Linked DNA regions of Homo sapiens: region 2 is linked to region 1. Evidence: fine-mapped expression QTL. Tissue or cell type: whole blood. Region 1 holds a variant in brackets; the other region holds the start of a gene. All regions are shown on one strand. Distances are between the middles of the regions.

Region 1 (6,147 bases):
CAGGAGCTGCAACCAACCAGTCTGCTTCCCATCCAGCCCCAACAAGTCCTAAGCCCAGCTGCTGCACAGAGGTCCATGTGACCCAGCCACTCTCACCCTGTCTGAGATCTCTAATAATCCCAGAGTGCTCCCAACCCCCAAAAACACTCCAGAAGGAGAGCAACAAACATTGCTGGCCAGTTGGAAGAAGCCACAAGAGCCAGATCCAGACTTCGGTCTGGAGGAATGGTAGTGGCTGGCCAGGGCAGTGGCAGGAGGCCAACGAGGCCAGGCTGTGCTGCCTGGGTGCAGGCCAGTCCCACTGCCATGGCAGCAAGGCTGGGTTCAAAGGCCTGTTTGGGCAAGAGCAGCCCATGGGGAGGCTCACCAGCCCGTAGTTCTTCCTACAGTTGTGACCCCGCCAGTGCCTCTGGATCAGTGTGGCAGCGTTCTTCAGCTTCAGAAAGTTAGACCTGAAACAGCAGTAGTGGCGCGGGTGAGCAGTGTCCAGAGGCAGCCAGGGTACAGGTGGGTTTGGGATCAGGAGGGCACGCTGAGTCCCAGCTCTGTGACTTCCTAGCTATATGACCTTGGGCAAGGCACATAACTTCTGTGCCTCAGCTTCCTCATCCGTACAATGTGTAGAATAATGCCTGCCCTGCCTGCCCCACAGGCCTGTCACATAAGCCCATGAAGGTAGACATTCAAAAGGTATTTGTTGAATGAATAAATGTATGAAAAAATAAGTAATTAAAATAATATAAAGATCAAAAGCTTTGAACAGTCTAACTTCCTCAGTTTATACATGAGGCAACTGAGACTTGATAGGTTGGGACTAGAGCCCATGTCTTCTGACTGACCCTAAGTGAGCCCAGTGCTGTTCCCCCTGCACACAGCAGGCTGCTTCTATAGGAGAACAGTCATCTTCAGCCTGATAGAGGACAGAGACCATGCACAGACAGCAGGGGTCTGCTGAATGTAGAAATAAATAAAGGAAGAGCGAAGGATGGGTGTGCAAGTATGCAAGTGAGCCAATAAGTCAATGCTTGGAGACACACATAAGCAAATGAGCAACTGTGGGAGTGGGTGGGTGAATGGATGAATGGAGGAATGAATGGGTAGGTGGATGGGTGGGTGGACTGATGAGTGAATGGATGGGTGGGTGGGTGGATGGATGGATGGTGGATGGGTTGGTGGGTGAATTGATGGATGAATGTGTGGGTGGATAGGTGGATGGATGAGTGACTAGGTGGGTGTGTGGGCGGGTGGATGGATGGATGGATGGATGGGTGAATAGGTGGGCAGATGGATGGATGGATGGATGGGTAGGTGGGTGGGTGAACGGACGGATGGATAGGTAGGTGGGTGGACGAGTGGAAGAAGGGAGAGAGTGACCATATGAACTGCAAAGGGGTGCATTGTGGAATTTTTGCAGAGCTTTAATCACACTTTGGAGTCAGTCCTGCACATTTGTGAATTGTCACGTGTACACATATCCCTTAGATAGAATATGAGACACATTTTGTATTAATAATTTATAAAATCTCAAATTTCCTCTTTGCAAAATTTCATCAGCATCTGACATGAACAGTGGGTCCACATGTGAGTCTCATGTATCTACGTGTGCATGTGCATATGTAGGTGAATGTATTGCATTATTTGGCTTACGTGGCACAATGGGTCCATGTAAATCATGTATCTATGTTCCTCTGTGTTTACATGATCATGTGTGCATGCCATGCATGTGTGCACTTGTTTCATAGGTGAACACGTTTTTTTCCTAGTGTTCATGCGGGCAGAGCAGAGGAGAGCCAAACACCACACGTACACCTGTATGTGGGCTGAGGAGGGGAGGAGCTGGTGGGAACACGCACCTGTCTTTGAATCCCCGGATGACTTTCTGAAGGAGGATGACTCTGTCGGTGATGGCTTTGTCCCGCTCCACTTCCAGCAGCATGTCATGGTGGTCCTAGGAGGCAGAGCTCCTGAGCAGCGCCCCACAAGGTCTCCTCTAGGACCACCTGCTCAGTCCCAGTGGGGGCTGCTCTTCCTTCACTGGGAGCACAGGTCAAGAACTCAGTTGGGCCCCATGAGCTCCCAGCTGGCTCTGGCCCCTGGGGCAGCCTCCCACAGCCACCAGGACAGACAGGGGTTGTGGCTGTTTCCCAGAGGTCCAGGCAGGACAAATGGAGCAGAAGGTGCCTAATCTCTCTGGATGGGGTCGGAAGGCCCAGTATGCACACACACCAGCTTCTTCCCTATCGTCAATCTGCCCAAGCCCCCTGCTTCTAGACGTCCCTGTCACATCAGTCCCTCACCTGGGCTGGGCTGTTGCCATTCTTCTCCCGAACCTTGGCAGCAGCCTCCTAACTAAAGGTCTCGCGGCCTCCTGGCTCCCTCTCTGGCGCTCCTTCACAAGCAGCCAGAGGGACCCTCCTCAACACAACCTGGATGGTGACCCTACAGTGACACCTCATGGTTCCCCACGTCGAGCCTGGGTTCCTCACCCTGGCATTCAAGGCCACCCATGATCCAGGGTGTCTGCCAACTTTTTCAGCCCTCTCTCCTCCTCATCCAAGACCCCAACCCTCACTGTAGTTGGACAAAACTTCATTGGTTCACTTAATATATATGAATTGAACACCTCCATGTGCTGGCACTGTGCTAGATGCTGGGGAGGGGAGGGGCTGCCACAATGAACCAGGGAGACATGGCCCCTGCCCTTGGGGAGGGTAGAGTCTCATGAGGGAGCCAAATCCATCAGATAATCACAGACACACAGGGCCCTGACAGAGGAGATGCTCAGCCGAGGCATTCTGAATGAATGAATGGATGAATGAGCATGTTTGGCCTCTCAAAACCAAGGCCATATCGGAAGAGCCTAGCAGTGTAAGTCAGGGGCTGATGGAGCTCCTCCGAGTTCCCTGGTACTAGATGCCATCATGATTCCTGCCTTCCCCACTTTGCCCACACAGGGGCTGGGCATCAGACCTTCCCAGACTAGAAGTCCTGCTCCCTGCTTCCTAGCTGCCTGGTTTCAGGCAACTCACTTCTCTCTGAGCCTGTGAAATGGGTATAATATTTCCTTCTCCACAGGACTGTTTCAAGGATTAAATGAGCTCATGGATGAAAAGCACCCACCCAGGGCCTGGCACATGGAATGTGCTTTCTGGCTGACAGCTGTGGGAGGCACAGGCAGGGAACATTCATCACATCTTGCTGATGAGGAAATGCAGGTGCAAGGAGAGAAAGGGCCTAGCCTGAAGCCCCTTGGCTGGAGAGGAATTAGAAGAGGCCGCAGGCTCCCTCCAGTTCGGAGCTGGTTCTTGTCCCTCCTGCAGCTGTCCTTGGAGTGCCCAGGCCCCACCCCCCACACCAGAGGAAGGAGCCCTGTCATCCGGGACAGCCAGAAATCTAGCACAG[C/T]GGAAATGCAAATGGGGAAGCCCAGCACTGGGAGCTCGCACTGTCCCTGCTGCGGCTGCCCTGCCACTGCCAGCTCCCAGCCATGTCTCCAAGGCTGTGACTCCGCGACTCCCGCAGGCCTTGCTTCCTGCTTCCTTCCCCAGCTGCCCAGGCAGCAATGGGAGCTGAGCTCCCTACAGAGTGACGGACAGGTGGCATGCTGCGGACCCCAGCACGGGATGGGCCCTGCCAGGCAGGAAACCACAGGAAGGAACCTAAAGATACACTCAAGAGACCCCACACAGGCACACCCCAATTTACAGATGGGAAAATGAGGCTCAGAAAGGGCCCCAAGGCAAGCAGCACCCCTGCCTCCCTGCTGTGGGCCTAACAGCCAGCCCGCCCCTGGCATGTGCTTTGTAACCTGTGGTCAGTGCTCTGACCCCACTCCCAGGTTGTAGATGATCTCAAACACCAAATTACCCTTCCCCACCAGAGAGGCCAGATCCCACCTGCTCCTCCAGCCACACCACAGCCCGGCAGAAAGGATCTCAAAGCCCCAGCACTGCCTCCCTCTCCCGAGCACCCCAGCCCACATCATGGGAATTTACAGCCCCCCCAGGGCAGCCCAGGGAAGGCATCTGTGCTCACCTTCAGAAAGATCTTGGTTTTGCCTATCTGCCAGTCATCGTGGGTGCCCAGCACAGCCTCAGCCATGCGCTGGCAAGTCCCGCGGAGGTCGCCCTGGAGTGAGGATGGGGAACACAAGGGAATGGACAGCCTCTCCAGTGGGAAGGCCTCCGGAGTGTCCCCGAGGCTGAGAGGCAGGGCTCTTCCCGAGCTCTGCCCCTGACTCGAAGTGTGACCTCAGCTGGGTCCTGCCTTCTCTGAGCCCCAGTTTTCTCCTTAGCTCAGCTGGATGGTATGATTGCAAAACCCTTTCTCACAACTGACATCCAGGGCCCGCGTGGCAGCCCTGGTCTTGTTCCTTACACCACCATGTGTGAAGTCCTCACCAGCTGAACATGGCAACTGAAGCCCACTGATGCATTCCAATACCTGAACCCCAATTTTCCGTGCTGCACCTGAGAGGTCAAGCAGATGTCAAGCCCCGCCCATGGTCCTGATAAGAAAATTGGGACCCTTGCCCAGCCAAAGCTGGGACCCTCCCCTCCTGCCCTCTGTGCACTCAGCCCTGTACCTGCTTGTAGGCCGGCTTCACACCTGGCAGCAGCACACGGTACCGCTCCACAAACTCTACGAAGCTGTAGCGGATGGGGTAGCCAGCTCGGCGGATTCGGATGGTCTCCATCATTCCTGAGTACCGCAGCTGGCGCACGCACAGGTGCCGGTCGAACAGCTGCCAGGCACACAGCCAAGGGCATCAGGGCCAAGGCTCCTGCTGGGAGGCAGCCCTGCTGTGCACTTGACCAACCCAGACAAAGGCTCAGAAAGGCCAAGTCCACACGGCATGGGAGGAGCAAAGCTGGGACAGGCACCGGGATCTGCAGCTCAAATCCACAAAAGAGCATAAAGTGAGGCCTGTCGTGGTGGAGCTGTGTGCTTTGGGAGCACAGAGAAGACAGATTAATTCCCCTTGGGACACCCAAGTGGGGAGCTTCATGGAGGAGGCGTCTTTATCACCCTAACCCTGACAGGAGGGGGAGTATTCCAAGGCTGGAGGGGGTGAGCCTGTGCAAAGGTTTGGAAGCCTGAAAGCGCAGGACTTTGCTGGGAATCTTGAGGGAGCTAGAGAGGCTCGTCCAGGCCAAGTTATGGCTGTGCAGGTGAGGGGTGCTCTGCACAGCCCCAGGGAGGACCTTTCACGTTGCAGGTATTGTAGATCTGCGGTTATTCAGACAACTTTCTAGCTGCCTTAAGGAAGAGGCACATTTTTCAAAGGGCCCTGGGGTTTGGTTGGTGGAGGGGCTGGGGAGAAAGAGTAGAAGGCAGGTGCTGGGCTGTGAGGCTGTGGGGCTCTGTGAGGGCCTCATCCATGGATGCTGGAAGCCAGGGAAGTTTTAGAGCAGGGAGAGACTGGGCCAGGTCTGCATTTGAGAACAATGTCACTGGGGGCCAGGGGAGGCAGGACAGGAGGCAAGGGAGGCAGGAGACCCTTGAGGAGGCTATTGCCAAGGCCCAGTCCACAGATGCTGAGGACTGGGCCGAGGGAAGGGTCCCACTTCAGAGCCAGGGAAGACTGTGCCCGACTGCCCTGGTGTCAGTCCCCTGCACCCCCTGCATTAGAGGGAGAGCTCACTGGAGCCCTCTGCGACCCTCAGGCCCCTGCAGACCTGAGTCCTAAAGGGGACAGGCCTCATCCACTCTGGGACATGTTTTCCAGGCAGGAGGCAGCAGGAGGGGACGGTCTTGCAGCCTGTCAGCTTCCGGAGACTGTTTCCTCTCTCTCCGGGCCACTTTCCCCGGCCTTCCTTCCCTCCCCAGATCCCGAGGCCCCAGCTTCCCCCTGTGCCTCCCTGCAGGCCTCTGGGTAAACAACCCTCCCAGAGCCTGTGCTGCGAAAGGAGAGGGCTCGCAGCGAGGTGGCCCCAGCCTGAGCCCCTTAACCTCCCTGAGCCCCCAGTCCCGCATCTCTAACCTGGGACCAGCACAGTCCCTTTCTCACGGGCTGTTTGAGAAGGTTGAAGGAGGCTGTGGACTGACCATCCAGCCTATGCTGGGCACACAGAAAGGGCCCAACAAATGTTATTCAGAAAAGTCAAGAATGAGGATATCCCAACCAGCTGAAGAGATGGGGGAGGCTTC
Region 2 (5,476 bases), 48 kb after region 1:
CCACCTGGCTCAGGGCCCACATTCCTGGCTCCTGCTCTGGAGGCCAGGAGCTCATTAGAGCCTCAGACTGATCACGGGGAAGGGCTGAGGGTCAGAGGCCACTGTGGCCCTCAGTAGGAAGGGGGGCTGGAGGACTCAGCTCGGGCCAGCACCTCTGCTTCTTCCCATAAAATCCCAGGGGGCTCCAGCTCAAGCCTTGTCACCCCCCGCCCTCCAGTCACTGCTCCCCAAGGCCCTAAGAATAAGTTGGGCTCAGGGCCCTTCCTGGCCTGGCTTTGGGAGCCTTGCCAACCTCCTCTCCTCTTCCCCAGGGACCTTCCCACACCTGGGCCTTTGCACATGCTGTTCCACTGCCTGGGATCCAGAGATGTGTGTAAATAAACTCATTTCTGCCCAGTGGGGTGAGCCAGTGAGAGAAGGAAACCCCAGCTGGCACAGCAGAGGGAACAGGTTTCAGACTAGGCCTCAGCCTGGAGGGCTGGGTTTGGAAGCCTAGGCAGGAATTTTCCAAGAGAACACCCTGGGGAGGGTGTCCCACGGGTAAGCATATGGATGAGGGGATATGGCCTGGGGAGGACAGGCCACCCAAAGAGGTGGGAACACTGACCTGCTGAAGAATCACCATGGTCCCAAGTCAGGAGCTCCTGCTGCCCACTGGGCCAGGCACAGTTCTGCAGGGAGAGAGACCATGTCATGCTTCTGGGCAGGCCAGCCCTGGAAGCCTTGAGCCTGGCTGGGGTCACCTGGGCTCCTCCCAAAGCCCCAGCTCCTCCTCCCTCAAGGGAACCCTCCTTGGCTTCTCTCCCTCTGACCACTGCCCAGCCTGTGTGACCTGAGCCTCAGCCACTGTCACCAGCACCACTGCCCAGAGCAGCTGAATTCTTCTCTCAGCCACTGTCATTCAGAGATTCCCAAAGGGCTCCTAGAAAGTAGCAAGTCTGGCCCCACCAGGGACCTACGGCAAAGGGGCCCAGAGAGGGACCAAGACTTGCCCAGGGTCACACAGCTAGCCAGAGCAAATTTAGGACTAGGACTTAATCTCCGGCACTCAGCTTAGGGACTGCCCCAGGAATGTGGGTGACAAGGACAAGCCTGACTGAGCAGAAGGTCAAGGGCTGGGCATGACCTGCTCACAGCACACCCTGCCTGAAACCTCTCAAGAGCACCCACTGCCCTCAGGATGGCTCTGTGCAGAGCACTGGCTGCTGACGGGGAGGCAGGGTCATTGGGGTCTGTCTCTGGCTGTGCTGCTGAATGCACCGCACCTGGGCCTGGGCCCGGGCCCGGGCCCGCCCCGCTAGGCCCAGCACAATCTGGCCCCTGCTGATGCCTCGGTCTTTTCTCTCACTGCTCACTCCCTTTCCTACCCTTATACTTGGACATCCTCAGTGACTCACTGTTCCTGAAATACGCCAGCTCTTGCCATCTCCTGGCCTTCACACACTGGCCCTTCTACCTGAAATTTTGACTAGTGAATTTCCACTTATGGTTCATGGCTCAGTTCAGATGATACCTCCTCCAGGAAGCCTTCCCTGACCACTCCCAAGCTGCCAAGAGCCTCTATATTCCCCTTTATCCCATTTTGACTATATGCATTATGTTGTCAGGGTAAGGGTCAGTCCCACCTCTGCCCCCAAAGTTGGCGAGTTGATCCAGGGCAGGATGTGGCCAATGGGAGAGGGTCTGAGACATTGCCTTGTCTCCAGCCTTGTCCAGCACAGGGCCAGACCCAGAGACGGCCTCAGGAAGGAGCTTAAAAGGCAGCCCCAGCCTACAGACCCTGGTATGAGGCCCCTCTGGCTCCCAACCTGTCTCCTAGAATGCGCATCAATTTTTCACAAGGGCCCATTCAGAGCCGCCGGGGCATTCGATCCTCTGCCCATGACACTGCCCGACATCCGAGCCCTGACCCCTGCCCTGGAGCTCTGGGACACAGCAAACCCACAGTCCTTCCAGAGACCTGAACTAGTCTGGATGCCTGGTGGAGATGTGGATTCAACAGGGCCAGCAGGCAGTTGCCACCGGGCACTTGTCTGAAGATGGTGCCCAGGCTGTGGAGCAGGCGCCCTATGCCAGCATGAGCCATGAGGGCTGGGGGCAGAGCCAGTGCTTTCACTAGAGACATGGGGCTCCAAGGGATGGGGGAGAGTGGTGAGGGCGTGAAATTTAAGGGCCACATTTTAAAATGACCAGACAGACATTTCATTTCTAAAAATGAGAACTAGACCACCTTCAAGTTAATTTCTTTTCCAACTGACAACAGGGGGCATAGACTGTATTTGTATTTCTATGTCTATACCTGATTTTACCTCTTCCCCACTACAACCCTGGCTGTTGGGGCTTCATACTCCCATTTCACAGATGGGATATTTGGGGCATAGAGGAAGGAAGTGACTTATCCAAAAACGGAGATAAAGAGTGTCAGAGAGAAAGCAAAGGAGACAGAGAGAACGGACTCTTCTCTCTGCCACCACAGCATGTCTATTCCCCTGGCCCCAGGATGCCACTAACCCCAGCCCCAGCTCAGAGAAGATTCGATGGACAACATGCTCCTTGGCTCTTCCCTCCTCCAGGGGACACACATCCATCTTCCCAGGCTCGGGACAGTTTCATTCAGTGGCTGTGGTGGCTGAGCCCTCAAGGGTGGCAGGAAGCCCAGTCCCAGGAGCAAGTGGCTGTGGGGCAGAGGCTCTAGAGGTAGCTCAAGTCCATGACTCCTCCACATCCAAACCCCTCCCAATGCCCAGGACAGTGGGCAGCCCATCCTTACCTGGGGCCCAGCTGCCCACTCTCAGTGACCTGCCAGCCTGGTACAGCTGCCACCTGCACGGAGGACTCAGGAAGCTGGGTCACGGGCCCAGCCAGTCTGCAAACACACGTCCCCTCTTCCTCTGTCTGGCTCCAAGTCTCGTTCTAGGCGTCCCTCTGGGTCTTTCCCTTCCTCGCCGTCTCTCTGTGTGTGTCTCTTGTCTCTCCCTCTCTCTCCTGCCCAGAGCAGCTGTCCAGCCAGCACTGCTGCCCTCCCCTCCTCACTCCAGAGCCTTCTCCCAGGAGGCGGAGCCGGAGGGGGCCTCCAAGGTCTGGGTGCGGTGACATCAGCGTGGGGGACGGGCCGTGCTGGGGCTGGGACTAATGTCCAGAGGCTGCTCAGGGCTCTGTGCAGAGCACTGGCTGCCGACAGGGAGGCGGGGTCATTGGGGTCTGTCTCTGGCTGTGCTGCTGAATGCACCGCACCTGGGCGTGGGCCCCCCAGGCTAGCTTCAGGTGCCTCCTGTTGTTTGCAGGACACCGCCTGCTGTCTCAGCACCTGAGCAGGAAACCGCACCTGATCCTGACTTAATCACTGATGTGCTGGGGTCTCAGCCCCATTTCTTCCTCCTCTACCTGGCTGTTTGGGACTCAGAGAGGGAACGGTCAGGCAGAGCATGGCAGGAGGGAGAGTGCTGAGCTAAAGCCCTGCCTTCTGCGCCTTCTCCCTCCTGCACACCCACCCTTGCCTCTGATGTGTGTTCTCTGACGCTGGTCAATGCAACATTGCCCCCACAACCTGCTCTGCGGGTTGGGGACACATGTTATTCCGTAATCATCCAGAAACTTTGCCAAACCAGCTGACTGGGAGCCACCCCACGTGTGACAGCGACACAGATAAACTGAAGTGAAATCTGTGATTTAAAGGAGTGGGGGGAACCAAGCAAAGAGGAGCACACGTCTTTGTTATTAGCGTTGTCGAGGATGGAGACCTCGCGCGGCCCTATCGGGACATGACAGTTTCTCCTTTCCGCCCTCGGCAGCCACGCAGCTGTCGGCGGCCCCATAGTGCACCTCGCCAGGGCAGCTCTGGGTGGCAGAAGGATGTCTCTTTTGGGTCCCTAGCCCCCATAACTGGGGTGTCTGCAGGGAAGCTGCCCAGAAGGTGGGGTGGGGGCCCAAAGGGGCGCTATAGCTCGCCAGCGCCGCCTGCTGGTCACAGGCCCCACTGCCCAGCTGCTTCCGTCAGGCGGGCTGAGCACCGCTGGGAAGTGACCGTGACAGGAGTCAGCTTCTGCTAGGGCCTGGGTCCCCTCAGACCCGACGACCCTGTCCCAGGAAGACCCCAGGATGCCGTCTGCCCCTTAGCCTGCTGGCCTAACAGGAGTCCAGGAGTCCCTGGAACACAGTCCCCACCTGGGATTTGCACCTGCTGCCGAAACCCAGTACTGGCCACTCCTCAAGTCCCCCCTCTCCATCCTCCCAGGCTGGGCGGGGCCAGTGGCGTCAGCCCTACACGGATGGGGAAATGAGACCCCGGGGGAGCACAGGAGAGCCCATGGCACACGACTGGCAGCAGGGACAAAATGCAGTGAGCTGTGGGAATGGGGCAGAGAGGTGGGCAGGTTATGGGGGACAGGGCGGCCTCCAAACACCAGGATGACAGCTACATTGTGTTCAGCCATGCTATGAACCAGGCACTATGCTAAGCAGATCACACGATTTGCAATACCCATTTCTCAGTCCCATGAAGAAAGCGAGGCATCTCGGTTCACTTTGCCCTCACACTGCACTCACCCCGTCTCCCAAGTCGTTTTTCATTGAGTCGTCCACTCTGCTTTCAGTCATCCCAACCCTGCTTCTCCCCACCACCACACCAGCTTCCTGGCCCTAGATGCCTGCATCTGCCCTCAGCAGCCTCCGCTCTGGTCCCCCCACACCTTCCTGTGCCCCGAAGGCCCATCTCCTCTTCCCAGCCCTTCATGCACAGATCAGGGAGTAGGCCGTCTCTAACCCAGCAGGCCCACACTGCCCCATCAGTAATGTGCGGGGTAGTGTCTGTCATGACCAGAGTATGTCTTTGTTCTCGCTGCTCGTTTGTAGACTGTCCCAGAGCAGGGATTGCTATGCCTGGTTCCCCACATCCCAGGTGCCCGGGGCAGGCCTTGGCACAAAGCCAGCCCCGTACAGATCTACTGAATAAAGGAATGACTGAATGATCCCCACAATCTCAGCTCACAGGTGCACCGGGCAGGCAGCGGGGCCTTCCCTCTGACCAGCGGACAGTCGCCCAGGCCTGGGGAATATTCCTCCATTGTCCCTTCCCCCCAGGGGGACAGAGGGACACAGGAAAGTCTTTTTGGAATTTTGTAAGATTTATTGAGAATAGAACAGGCTTCCTGTCCCCTAACCCTGTGGTGGATCCTGAGAAGAGGGAAGCCTAGGTCTGGGTGGTGTGGGCTGGAGGCCCTACCCACCTGCAAATGGGGACTCCCAGGCCCCCGCGGGTGCATACAGTGAACAAAGTAATTGCTCTCCCCTATCACCCCTGATCCTTACCTGCCTGGCCCCCAAGGTCTCCTGGGGACCAGAGATCCCTGCATAGCCAGGAGCCAGCCTGGCCCACCTCAAGGGGCAGGAAGCAAGGGTAGCACTGTGGAACCTGTTTTTGTCAGGGGGTGGCAGGCATGCCCCGGCCCCGAGGCTGAAGCCCACAGGTCTGCCACTT

What was found. PIP is the estimated chance that this variant, and not a neighbour inherited with it, causes the effect.
Region 2: MYO7A starts here. The variant in region 1 is fine-mapped to the expression of MYO7A in whole blood (TOPMed, PIP above 0.99). The same link has a PIP of 0.9 or more in blood mononuclear cells, lung, monocytes, tibial artery, tibial nerve and transverse colon.

The regions. Positions count from the first base shown.
Region 1 is chr11:77,173,350-77,179,496 of GRCh38, reverse strand. It overlaps MYO7A (myosin VIIA), which reads right to left. Exons shown (of 49, transcript NM_000260.4): 17 at 4,583-4,741; 18 at 4,033-4,125; 19 at 1,854-1,948; 20 at 368-452. Among named protein-coding and RNA genes, the nearest start is that of MYO7A, 48 kb to the right of the region's middle. The variant C/T (reference allele first, on the strand shown) is at 3,403.
Region 2 is chr11:77,125,784-77,131,259 of GRCh38, reverse strand. It overlaps MYO7A (myosin VIIA), which reads right to left and starts at 3,014. Exons shown (of 49, transcript NM_000260.4): 1 at 2,771-3,014; 2 at 608-671. The coding sequence starts at 625. It overlaps CAPN5 (calpain 5), which reads right to left. Exons shown (of 13, transcript NM_004055.5): 13 at 5,105-5,476. RefSeq lists enhancers at 1,436-2,159, 2,882-3,605, 3,606-4,328.